Regions from separate parts of the Homo sapiens genome. Here all the other regions are reported to be linked to region 3. Evidence: microRNA targets listed by miRTarBase, many of them from high-throughput screens and not tested one by one. Region 3 holds a microRNA gene; each other region holds the end of a gene's coding sequence.

Region 1 (4,244 bases), not on the chromosome of region 3:
AACATGGAGCTCTACAAAGCGCCACTCAGCAGGTTCAAACAGTTCACGTAACGCCCATTAGAAAATGTGTACTAAGTACACCTTTCTCTCTATCCCCAAATCCACTCCCCAAACCCCAACCCAGTCCAAAAGGCTGACTTGATGAATCTCCTTCAGTGAGTTCTATGGATGGGATGTGAACACACAGTTATATCAGCTGAGAATACATATTCTTGTGTCAGTGGAGTCAGGTAATCTTTGTAGAGCCATTATTTACCCACCATCAAAAAGCTCCCCTCCCCAAATTGCACATGAAGCCTGATAAGCTCCTTGAAATTGGGGGCAGAACACCTCAAGGCCTCATTATCCTTCTTCTCTCGTTTCCCTGTGTCTTCCCACCTCCCCTGTGTGCTGCCTCTGTGGCTATAAAGAAGGGCTGTGAACCTTCTCAGCTGCAGTGGCTTTTAATGAGCTTTACTGAGCATGATTCTGGATTCTTTGTGAAGTGGCCACCTTGTCTTATCTCTGGAATCTGAAGACATTTAATAAACCAAGTAAGGAGAGGTGAGTCTTTACTGAGTCCTCACTCACTCTGAGGTCATACCCTTCATTTGGAATTGAAAAAAAAAAAAAGTCTCAAGCTGACAATAGGAGTATAGGGAAATAAGATGGAGACAGGTAAAGTGAGTGATGGGAGAGTATTAGGAGCTGTTTCCTGAAACAAGGCACAGCCTGTGAGGCTCTGCAGCAGCACGACTCCTGCCGGCCAAGACAGCAAAGTCCTGATGGGGAGCACAGAAAGGCAATCCTCGTTCCACCGTAGGTGGACACATCAGAGAGAGGAGCCGCTGGGGAGGATGACCAGATAGAAGGCTGAATAAATGAACAGGTAGGAGGAAGATCTGAAAAGCTAAGGCTGAAGCTCAGAAAAGACATTGAAAAAAAATAAATTCAAAGACACCTCTGGCCCTTTGATGCCCTCTGTTAACATCTTACTCTTCCATCAAACAAGGAATATGGTTTTTAAGAATTCTTACTATTTTAAAGAAGTGGTGGAATGGCCGGGCATGGTGGCTCACATCTGTAATCCCAGCACTTTGGGAGGCTGAGGCTGGTGGGTCACCTGAGGTCAGGAGTTTGAGACCAGCCTGGCCAACATGGTGACACCCCATCTCTACTAAAAATACAAAAATTAGCTGGGCGTGGTGGTGGCGCCTGTAATCCCAGCTACTCAGGAGAATTGCTTGAACCCGGGAGATGGAGGTTGCAGGGAGCCGAGATTGCACCACTGTACTCTGGCCTGGGCGACAGAGCAAGACTCCAACTCAAAAAAAAAAAAAAAAAAAAAAAAAAGTGGGGGATTATTTTGGAAAGTTTAAATTCCTAAGGAATTTGTGAGGATTGTTTAAAAGGGCTAGTGCTATTCAAAGCTCAGTCTTGGCTGGATCTCCACGGTGTCCAAGGGTGCTGAAGGACCCCAAAAGCTCAGGAGAAATGGGGAGGGGCTAGACAAGGTGCTGTCCTGGGCTTCTTTTTCAAAATGGGCAAAAAGTATGGCTCTGAAAATTTGGAGGTTTAAAAGTTTACCATACCTAGAAATACATGGGAAAAAAGTCACTATTCATTTGTGAAATTAGGCCCCAGGCAAGCAATCAGCAGTGTGACTCTGAAAGTAACAATATCTCATCAATTTAATCTCTTCCTGCAATAGAATGACTACACTGGCAAACTGAGGTAGAGATCAAAGTAATGATCTTGATTTTAGTACAGATCCCAGTTCTTTTCTGCACGATGCATTCACCAATGGGCTGATGAAGTAAAATCTACACTGTGTAGCTCTTAGATGGGCGTGCAATTGGCTGCCAGTTTGAAATGAAACCAAGAAGGAAATTAATGGTGGGCCAGAGGGATTAGTTGTGGGAAATCCATTTCTCCCAACAACAACAACAACAACAAAAATCTTTATCAGTAACTTCAATGATAGAATAGATAAAATGCTCATAGGTCTACAGGTGATATCAGCTGCTGCTAGTAGGAGAATGGAAATCAAAGCAAATTTTCTTAAGATGGGGGAAAATGTAGCATAAATATAGGCTTAAAAAATTGCCTGTGTGCTAGGATGCCAGAGAAAGAGGGTCTCCAATTGAGAGTTCAGCTGACTATGGGAGTTACATAGAGCCCACATACAAAACCAAAACCAAAAAGGGGAAAAGGGACAAAGAAAAAGAAGTTGTGGTTGTGAGGTACACAACTGGGTGAGAACCACAAGGCCATGTTCTGCTGATGGCCCTGCATGGCTCTTACTCAGGTACCAGGGCCAGTTCAGGGTTGGCTCAAAGACAAATGGAGAGGACAGTTGGGATTTCAAATTTAGGATCATCAGGACTTTGTAGCATTTTTTTTTTTTTTAAGAGACAGGGTCTCACACTATGCTGCCCAGGCTGGACTCGAACTACTAGGCCCAAAGCCATCCTCCTGTGTAAACCACCCGAGTAGCTGGGAGTACAGGTGTGCACCACCATGCCTGGGCTTTGTAGCATGTTTAAAGGAACCTAGGTGATTTAGTCAAAAGAGAACACTGCATGAACCAAGGCCTCAGGTGCTTCTTGCTGCCTTCATTTCCACAGAGGAGAACACAGGGATTTAGAGGAGATGGAAACATTTTCTAGGCAGTTATTGAATAACGGATCTTTGGAGGAGTTCGTGGAGTAGTGTAACCAGAAAGTCTTTAAAATTAAACCCTTCTAATCGTTTGTAAGTGTAGATGGGGGGACTTGGAAATCTCCGGGGCCTAATCATGCTCGCAAAAGGAGTGACATTAATAGCTTTGGAGATGGTGTCTTCCTCTCCTTTCCCAGGTTAAGTTCAAGCAGTAACAGCAGAGGTTCTACCTCCTTCCATCGAGTCTTTAAGCTGGACCCGGGGAAATAACTGTTAGGAAAGAGGCAAGCATCCAACCCACTCGAGCTGTGGGCTGACAGTCCCACTGGGATCGTCCCATGGAGACAATTGCAAGTCTTTTGCATGAGCTAAACCCCGCTCCACATGGAACCGAAGGTGCTCATTGTCAGCTACCACGCAATGCCATTATCACCTTTCAGCCCAAGTGCCACAGACCAACACTGGCTATACTCCAATGAGGTGTGGCATTCGGGTTCTTCTGCCTTCAGGTCACAACCTTTCTGACTCAGCTGGGCTACATTAAACCTGAAGCTCTGTACAATGTGGAGAGCGGTGTTGCCTTCATTACAAGTGGTGCAGCATTGGATTTTCAAGTAAGTCTAAGTGTTTCTATTGTCCTTAAAATGACATATGTCCAGTTATTTAAAAAAATTACAAAATACAAATGCCCGTGTTAATTTAGCTAGTCTCAGACATTACATTCGACAACATAGAAAAGCCAAAAGATCTCCAGTTATAAGCACAAAACTAAGGAAAGTTATGGATCAGTGACTTTTGTCACTAATCCATTTTCTTTTTTAAGTCACCTCCCTTTATGGCCTTGCTTGGCTGGTTTTTACATTGTGCATGACTTGTCTGTTGGACCCTGGGGAGGTGGGGCAGGTCCTATGGTAGGATTTGTTTTTGGAAGAACAGCAGGTTTTGGCCTAAGGGCTGGAGGCTTCAGCTGCACGCCCATTCTGGGTGCCACCATAGGCTTGAAAGTACTCATTGTGTCACTGGAGGAGCTCGTGCTACGTCGAATCTGAGGCTCGGAGCTCCTGAGGGCAACGTTGTGCAAAGGGCTGAGAGATTCCGTGGAAGTGGCAGGGGTGGGAGAGTTTTTCACTTGCTCCAGGGTATCCAGCACCACATCAGGGGCATGCTTTGCTGTGCTCTGTCTCTCCAGTTCTCGGAGTTCATTCAAAGCTGTGTTCATCGTTTCTTCAATATCCTATTGAAGAATAATCGGAAAGAGAGAAAGCACAGACTGATAATGAATACTAATGTATAGAAACCCAGACACTTAATTTCAAAGTAAACGGCCCAGCAGAGTATGGATATCTTTGACTCCATAGTCTGCAGAATATGTAAACATTATGCCATCTCACACAATCATCATTTTGATTCTTGATTCAGGAAACTGAGATATAATGGCTCATGGAGCCATGTATCAAACAATGGCCTTCCTAAGGCCCTAAGGTAGCCTTCTAATGGTCTCTGCCTTGCATGCTGACTTAAAAAAAAATTTTTTTCTTTTGAGGCAGGGTCTCACTCTGTTAGCCAGGCAGAGTGCAGTGGTGTGAATCAGCTCACTACGGCCT
Region 2 (4,244 bases), not on the chromosome of region 3:
TTTCCAAGCTACAAATGAATCCCAGTAGACCTAAATACCCATCATCTTCTTACAGACTGCTGGGATTTAACCTATACTCCCTCTAAATTTTGTTTTCACTGGTCATAGCCCCTGATCTGGTCTTTTTTCCTCTATCAATAATGTCATTACAATCTTCTGTATTCCTCAGGCCAAAGCCAGAAACCCTAAACCCCTGCCCTTCTGGAGACTCTTTCATGGTGCCCTCTGAGATTCCCTTAATAAACTCCCTTAATATCCTCAACTATTTCCCTGAACATTTCCTTTCATTAATTTAAACTTGGCTGTTCCCTGGGAAGGAAAAAACACCTACCTGACAACAATCACATCACAAGGGGGCTTATTCTCATGTATTCCACATATCCACAGGTTGGAAGTGGGATCAGTATCTTCCTTACTCCCTAACACTGCTTCTAACCATTGCAGCCTGGAGAAAACCACTCCTTCCTTTGAAGTTCATACCATCTAGTTATACCACTTTCTCCCTCTCTTCCTTGCTATCTTTTATTTAAATGACCTCTCCTCAATCACATAGACTTTGCTACTTGCTTTGCTGTCTTCTCCACTGATGGCTCTATTGATAACTTGGAAGGACTTTCAAATACATAGAGATCTTCTTCACTAAAACCTCCTTGCAGAATTTCATCCACCTTCCTCTTAGCAGATAATCTTACCATGAAACCTATAATCATATATCTATATTTTACTGGCCAGGAACAGTAGAAATGGCATCAAGGCTACAAAGAGGTTGGGATAAGTAGTTTTGTAGCTAAATACAATACTACTGTTAGCAAAACTGAAGATCTATTCATAAAGAATAAAAAATATATATATTTGGTTAGTAATTAGCAGTGGCTGCCACACAGTTCTTAGGAAACACAAAACATTATATAGTTCACATATTCTGATCACTGCTTAGTACAGTTAGGTGTAAATAAATAAACAAGTAATTTAAACCAACCCACCCATTTTTCTACTCCTGAAAGAATGGTGGGAGTATCCCTCCGCCTCATGGCAAACACCAATACTTTTGTTTGTGCTCTAAACATCTACACCCCATTCTCAGAAGCTTATATTAAACTTTATTATGCTGCATATTAAACCTCACCATACTACATTCATCACATTAGAATTCAAACATGTTCTAGTTTTTCATATTTTAAACATATTATCTCTTTACTCCAAATCTCTCCAGCTACTACCCTTTCTCCTATTATTCAAACTTGTCTACATCCAGTCTTTACTTCTTTGCCCTTTATTGATTCCTAAAGTCAGCCCAATCTAGCAACCATCTTCATTATGTACCACTATGTTATTTCCAACTACAATCACAAATGATCTTCACTTGGCTGTATATGTTTACCTTTTTAGACTTCATCTAATTGGATCCCTAAGTAACACTAAAAACATTTACCTTCACCTTCCTTTTTTTTTTTTTTTTTTTGAGATGAAGTCCTGCTCTGTCACCAGGCTGGAGTGCAGTGGTGAGATCTCATCTCACTGCAACCTCTGCCTCCCAGGTTCAAGTGATTCTTCTGCCTCAGCTCCTGAGTAGCTGGGACTACAGGCATGTGCCACCACACCCGGCTAATTTTTGTATTTTAGTAGAACCAGGGTTTCACCATGTTGGCCAGGATGGTCTCGATCTGACCTTGTGATCCGCCTGCCTCAGCCTCTCAAAGTGCCAGGATTACAGGCGTGAACCACCACACCTGGCCAACTTCACCTTCCTTTTTGAAACTTGTTTGTCTTGGTTCAGTGAAACTCCACTCTTCTTGTTTTCCTCTTATCTCTCTACTATAGTTCCTTTAAATGTATGTCTTCAGGGTAGGTGGCAGACCTTCCCTTTTCATTCTTACTCACCTTCCAAAGCCTGTTATTGTCTCTTTACTGATGTCACTACAATTTATATCTCTATCTAGACACCTCCTCAATTCTAGAATTGCGTACCAACCTCTTCATCTGGATGTCTCACCATCCTCTGAGGCTAACATGAATAACTACAACAGCAGCTACTGCCTTCTTTCTTCCACCGTATGCCACTCCTTCCATATTTTGTTAGAACTAATCTGGTCAGTATCTGCAAGATCAAGCAGCAAAATCTCATGCTTTACTTAGCATTTAAAATTGGTAACTTCCCCTCTGTCTGAAAACTTTCTGTAGTTCCAATGCTGAAATGTTGGGATACTCTTTTTGCTGTTCTAAACACTTGCTTTCAGTGATCTTGGTTCTATCTTCATCTGCTGCTTAAGCATAAAAGCTCGGTCAACATTCCTTTTCCATACTTTTTTTCTATGTTCCTCTTCAAATGTGTACATCCAACATAAAACATTTAACTGTATATACTTCTGTTTTTCTACAATATGGTGACTGCGTTGACTGTATTTATGTAGTGCTTTAAAAAAAATCAGTAAGAGCCAGGCATGGTAACTCATGCCTGGAATCCTAGCACTTTGGGAGGCAAAGGCAGGAGGACTGCTTGAGCCCAGGAGTTTCAGACCAGTCTGAGCAATGTAGGAAGAGCCTGTCTCTACAAAATATATATTTTTAAAATTAGCCAGGCATGGTGGCATGCATTTGTGATCCCAACTACTGAGGAGACTGTGGTGGATCACCTGAGCCCAGGAGGTCGAGGTTGCAATGAGCCATGACCACACCACTGCATTCTAGCCTGAGAGACAGAGACTCTGTCTGAAAAATTGAAAAAAAAAAAGAAAAAATCAATTAACATATTTTTCTTGGCCGGGCACAGTGGCTCACGCCTGTAATGCCAACACTTTGGGACGCCTAGGTGGGTGGATCACCTGAGGTCAGGAGTTTGAGACCAACCTGGCCAACATGGTGAAACCCCGTCTCTATTAAAAATACTAAAATTAGCCAGGCATGGCGGTGGTGCCTGTAATCCCAGCTACTCAGGAGGCTGAGGCAGGAGAATCACCTGAACCTGGGAGGTGGAGGTTGCAGTGAGCTGAGATTGTGCCACTGCACTCCAGCCTGGGCAACATACCGAGACTCCATCTCAAAAAACAAACAAAAAACCTTATTTTTCTCATGTAGGAACATATCCAGATACAAGTAGTGCAGGGCTGGTACAACTATTTAAAGATTTCTTTGAGGAACAGGGATCTCTTTCTTCTACTTCATCCCTTGGCTACAGCTGTCATTTTCATGATCACAAGATAGCTCTTTCAGCAGCTTCAGGAATGGCCAATTCATAGGGACAAAGATGAAGTGCAAAAAGTAGAGGACAAGATAGATAGTTCTGATCCCAGTGATATGTCTATTTTTGAATCAGCAAGAATGAATGATATGGCTACCCTTAGCTACAAGAAGTCAAAGAAGCGTTCTATAACCAGAGACCTTATTGTTCTTGGCTAAGATGGAATTCATTAGTAAGGAAAGATGAGCTCAAATGTTTGGTTGGCTGCTAGCAATACCAGTCTCACTGGGCCAGAAAACAACTTTTATAAAAACACCAACAAAGCAGTAAAATATAGTCCAGATTCTCTGAACACAATGGAATTAACCTAGAAACCAACAATAAAAAGATAACTGAAAATATACCTACCTCACATATTAAAAATACCTAATTCTAAACAGCCATGGATCAAAAAAAGTCATAATTAGTATTTACAGAAAATGTTATATTAAAAAAAGAGCCATTTGTAACCTTAAATCGTTCTTTTAGAGAACAAAGACTGAGACAAGGAGCTTGGAATCCACCTTAAGACAATGAAAACAGCAATTCCACATTCATAACACTTACAGGGTTTCTCTCTCAGTATGAATTCTCTTGTGTATAATAAGTGAAGAGCTCTGACTGAAGGCTTTTCCACATTGAATACATTCATAGGGTTTCTCTCCAGTGTGAATTCTCACATGCCTCCTAAGGGAAGAGGAAACACTGAAGGCTTTCCTACATTCCTTACATTCATAGGGTTTCTCTCCAGTGTGAGTTCTTATATGCATTCTAAGGGATGAGACCCCACTGAAAACTTTCCCACAGTCACTGCATTCATAAACATTCTCTCCGGTATGAATTTTCTTATGAACTTTAAGGTGAGAGCTCGTGTTGAAGGCTTTTCCACACTCACTGCATTCATAGAGTTTTTCTCCAGTGTGTATTCTCTTGTGCACTATAAGGTAAGAGCTTGTGCCAAAGGATTTTCCACACTGATTACATTCATAAGGTTTCTCTCCAGTGTGAGTTCTCATGTGAGCCTTAA
Region 3 (4,244 bases):
GGAGTCTCACTCTGTCACCAGGCTGGAGTGCAGTGGCACGATCTCGGCTCACTGCAGCCTCTGACTCCCTGGTTCAAGTGAGTCTCCTGCCTCAGCCTCCTGACTAGCTGGGATTACAGGCGTGTGCCACCATGCCCAGCTAATTTTTTGTATTTTTAGTAGAGACAGGGTTTCACCATGTTGGCCAGGATGGTCTCAATCTCCTGACCTCATGATCCGCCTGCCTTGGCTTCCCAACGTGCTGGGATTACAGGCATGAGCCACCGTCCCCGGCCCAGATATGTGATTTTCAAATATTTTTTCTTAGTCTGTGGTTTACTTTTGCATTCCCTTAACCATGTGTTGTACAGAGCAAACTTTTTTTTTTTTGTATTTTCATAAAGGATGATTCACCATTTGTTATTTTATGGTTTACATTTTAATGCCATATCTTAGAGTGTCTAAATTTAGGTACGTGATTCTTGGTTGACTGTTTTCCTTTTAGCACTATAAATGTTATTCCAGTGTCTTCCGGCCTCTATGGTTTCTAATGAAAAGTCAGCGAAATATATTGTAGAGGATCCCTTGTATGCATTAAGTTTATTTTTTCTAGTAGATTTCAATATTCTCTTTTTTTGTCACCAAAAAGTAGATATGTCTCTCAGCTTGGATTTCTTTTGTTTATGCTACCTGTAGTGTTTTGCACTTCTTAGGTATAATAAAAAATGTTTTTCATCAAATTTAGATATTCACAGCCATTTTTAAAAAATACTTTTTTGCTCCTTTCTATCTTTCACTTCTGCTACCTTAATATGCGTATTTTGATGTGCATGCTGGTGTTCTGCCTTTCTCTGAGGCACTGTTCATTTTCTTCACTCATTTTATTCTTTTATTTTTATAGAATTATCACTTTCAAGGTATCTTAAAGTTCACTGATTCTTTTTTCTCCTGAGTCCTTCTAGTGAATTTTTCACTTCAATTATTTTACTTTTATACTCCATAAATTCCTTTTCTTTAAATATTTCTACCTCTTTATTGATAGACTCTTTTGATGAGGCATTGTCAACATAGCTGCCTTTACTCTTCCAAGCACCATTTGTTTAGTGTTTTGAAAATACTTACAGTGGATGCTTTAAGGTTGTTGTTAAGTATAACATTAGGCTCTGTTGCCAGCATTTTCTGTAATCTACTTTTGTCCTGTGTGTTATATTTTTATTTTCTCTGTATGTCTGAGAATGTCCAGTTGAGAACTGGATATTTTATTAATATATTATAGAAGTTTTGGATGCAGATCTTGCTTCTGGGGATTGTTGTTGTCTGATTTTTTTATTTGTTGATTTACTTGGCTGTGCTGTTTTAGTAAAATCTATATTCTTTTTATTGTGAAAACCTAATGTTGTTCCTTGCAAGGTATAACTTTGGATATGTACACAGTCACTCTAAACTGTCGTGATTTTAGTAGAGTTCTTTGTTCTTTTGCTGCTCTTTCTGTTAAGCTGCCTGCCTCTGCGGTATCACACACAGGTAATAAGCTTCAGTGTTTGCAGGTGGATTATTTTGTAGCTTTTGAGAATACCATGGGCAAAAATTGCTTTAGAGTCTTATCCAAATACTTTGCAGATAATTTTTGGGGCAGGTCTCTAAAGGCTATTCTCCTACCAGAAAGGCTCTTATTAGCTGTCTGTTTCCTGATTCCAGTTCCATCCTAATTACTTGGCACCACAGTCTACATTATTTGTGAGACCTTTCTTGTCTTCTGTTACAACTGAAGTCATTTTCTTTTGAGAAGGAAAGCTTTAATGCTTTTTCTCTTAGGGCTAGCCTCTCTCAATGGACAAATCCCTGAGCAGTTGCCCCAAGCTGAGAATAAGGCAGTGTCCTGCTTCTTGTACACTGACACCCCTGCTTTACAACCAGGGTGATGAGTGATAGCAGTGGATTCTAGTGTTCTGGTTTGCCTCACCCAAAGTGGAAGCTCCCCCTGATGATTAAGCTGAGATGAGGAGTATTACGTACTCAATTATCTCCGCCGGCTGCACCTGGTATAGAGCCTAAACCCTGTGATGAAGAATGGCTATAGTAGCAGGCCCCTGACCTCTAACCTCACATGCCTAGTATTTAGCCTCTGAAACACTAAACTGGGTTTGTGGAGTGGATGAGAAATTCTGGAGGCTTCTTAAACCCACAAGTATATTGTTGCTCTTGATTAGGAGATAGGGGAACAGGTAATTTTGTAAGCCACAGTCACTTTAAATTCTCAGTTCTCAGTCTCTGAAATCCAGTCACCAAAATTGTGTCCATATTTTTGTGTGTGCTAATTTTAGTTTTGCAGGGAAACACAGTCACCTAGTAGCATGTGTCTCAGATTGGAAAAATGCAAACACATGCTAAAAAGAACCTTGCTCCCAGAAAAGACGAAGAAAACCCAGAAACTGAAAAATCTCTAAGAGTGTCTGGGTGCCTAGCACAATTTCTGTTTTGTAGATCACTCCTGGTAAGTAAAATGGGATTTTTTTTTTCACTTCAAAATTTGATGAGGATAAAAGAAATTCTACTCTCTCCATCTTACCACTCACTGATTATTCTCTCTTCTTTGCTTCCAGGATCCTGTGTGATGTCCTTGCTTATTCTGTAGTGAGGAGTTGTAGTAAGGAACTCAGGTAGAAGAACTCAGATCTTTGGATGATAGGCACAGATTGGTGAGATAGAGTGTAGTGTCTGGGTAGCTACTGAATCTGGGGAATGCAATCTACTCATTAATACTTTATATAAAACAATGGGAAAAGAAATAGAATAAGGCATCGAATGAGATTTTTCCCGTTAGCAGGAGAGCCTAGCAGGAAGGTTCTTAGTCCTGAAAACTGCCATGTGAAAACTCCAAACCATGAGTGGACAACACTCAAGGGGGAATGAGTGAATAAAAAATGATGTAGGTTCTTCAGGAATCATTTACATAAATGCCAACGGCCACTTACAGACTGAAAACATTTGAGAGGTTGTTTGAAAAGTGTGTGATTAAGTATTTAGGCTGTGCTCCCATTTTCAGGAATGCTGTGTATGTGTGTGGTGTCCTACTCAGGAGAGTGGCAATCACATGTAATTAGGTGTGATTGAAACCTCTAAGAGTGGAGTAACACATGACATGTACTACATATGCAATGATATTGCAGATATTTAGTTGCATGCAGTGGTATGCTTTTCTTAGCACATAGATAGTCCATCTGGTACCCTCCTCAATACTAAACTAGCTGGGGAGTTTCTAGATAAACTTCTGAAGACAAGACATAGGAAATAAAGGTTTTGGGAAAAAGTGTTTCACTGATTTCTTAGGGGCTTCATATCCTTCTTTACAAACTTGCAAGACTAAAATGGGAAAAAAGCCTTTTAGTATGGTCATGGTGTTCCTATCTGCCTGTGAATTTTTTTTTTTTTTGATAACCCTTACCTGCGGGGTCCATCCCACAGACCCTGGCCAAGCAACGGATGAAAGGAGTACTCAGCCACAGGCATGCAGTGTAAGAGCAGCTACAGGAATGCCCAGCACTAATGGCTGAAGAGTGAGCAGTCTCGAACAGCTGGAGCTGCTTGCTTTTATTCAGTACAGACAAAATAATGAAAGCCTGGAGCCAACACAATCTGTGGGTAATTAACATTATTATTCCCCCTTTCAGGGAGCAGTCTCCTGCCCTGATGATCAAAGTCGGTTTCCGGACAATGTAAGTAAACAAGCCTGTTTATGCCAAATTCCCCTATACTTCCTTACCTACCCCTTGCCCTCTGCCTCAGGGTAAGAGAACAGCTGCCTTCAGCTTATTCATCCCTGAAGCTATCCAGAGCCTTCCCGCCTTTCAGAAGGTCTGTTCCTTTCCCTATACCTTCTCCTACCACTCTGACCGATCTCCCGCGTCTCCCCCTTTTCTGTTTTTAGCATCGGGTTTTGTTGATTGAATAGTACAGATGTGTGCAGTGACAGATTTGACAGGCGCAGCGGTTACAGCTCGTGTTCCGGCTTTGCATCCTAGAATTAGTAAATAACATAAGTCAAACATTAGTATAGTCACTATTATTCTTTTCCAATCAAGGAGAGATATGTAGTGTTACTTGGCACCTCAGTTCAATGTGTGCCATTATTAAGGAACCCCACTGGGGGCATGTCAACCCCTCCCAGCTAAGCAGTTACATTATTAGAGGATGGGAAGGGGGTGTCTGCCAAGGTAACAGGTTGGAAGAAAGGCAGATCTTAGAAGATGGGCCCAATAGAATGT

The links. The annotated mature microRNA hsa-miR-510-5p reads UACUCAGGAGAGUGGCAAUCAC and lies in region 3 at 3,052-3,073, shown strand. An mRNA with a match to its seed (bases 2 to 7 or 8) in the 3' UTR can be bound and repressed. Matches are read on the target gene's strand: a 7mer-m8 pairs with bases 2 to 8, a 7mer-A1 pairs with bases 2 to 7 and ends in A, and an 8mer does both.
Region 1: miRTarBase lists SRGAP1 as a target of hsa-miR-510-5p. Seed matches in the 3' UTR shown: 8mer at 2,281-2,288 and 8mer at 1,208-1,215.
Region 2: the mRNA of ZNF891 is a reported target of hsa-miR-510-5p. Seed matches in the 3' UTR shown: 8mer at 2,928-2,935.

The regions. Positions count from the first base shown.
Region 1 is chr12:64,141,925-64,146,168 of GRCh38, reverse strand. SRGAP1 (SLIT-ROBO Rho GTPase activating protein 1) reads right to left here. Exons shown (of 22, transcript NM_020762.4): 22 at 1-3,874. The coding sequence ends at 3,497. Among named protein-coding and RNA genes, the nearest start is that of KICS2, 78 kb to the left of the region's middle.
Region 2 is chr12:133,116,504-133,120,747 of GRCh38, forward strand. ZNF891 (zinc finger protein 891) reads right to left here. Exons shown (of 2, transcript NM_001277291.2): 2 at 1-4,244. The coding sequence ends at 3,781. Among named protein-coding and RNA genes, the nearest start is that of ZNF891, 12 kb to the right of the region's middle.
Region 3 is chrX:147,271,207-147,275,450 of GRCh38, reverse strand. MIR510 (microRNA 510) reads left to right here and starts at 3,043; the gene lies at 3,043-3,116. LOC105373347 (periphilin-1) reads right to left here. Exons shown (of 4, transcript XR_005647084.2): 4 at 3,556-4,244.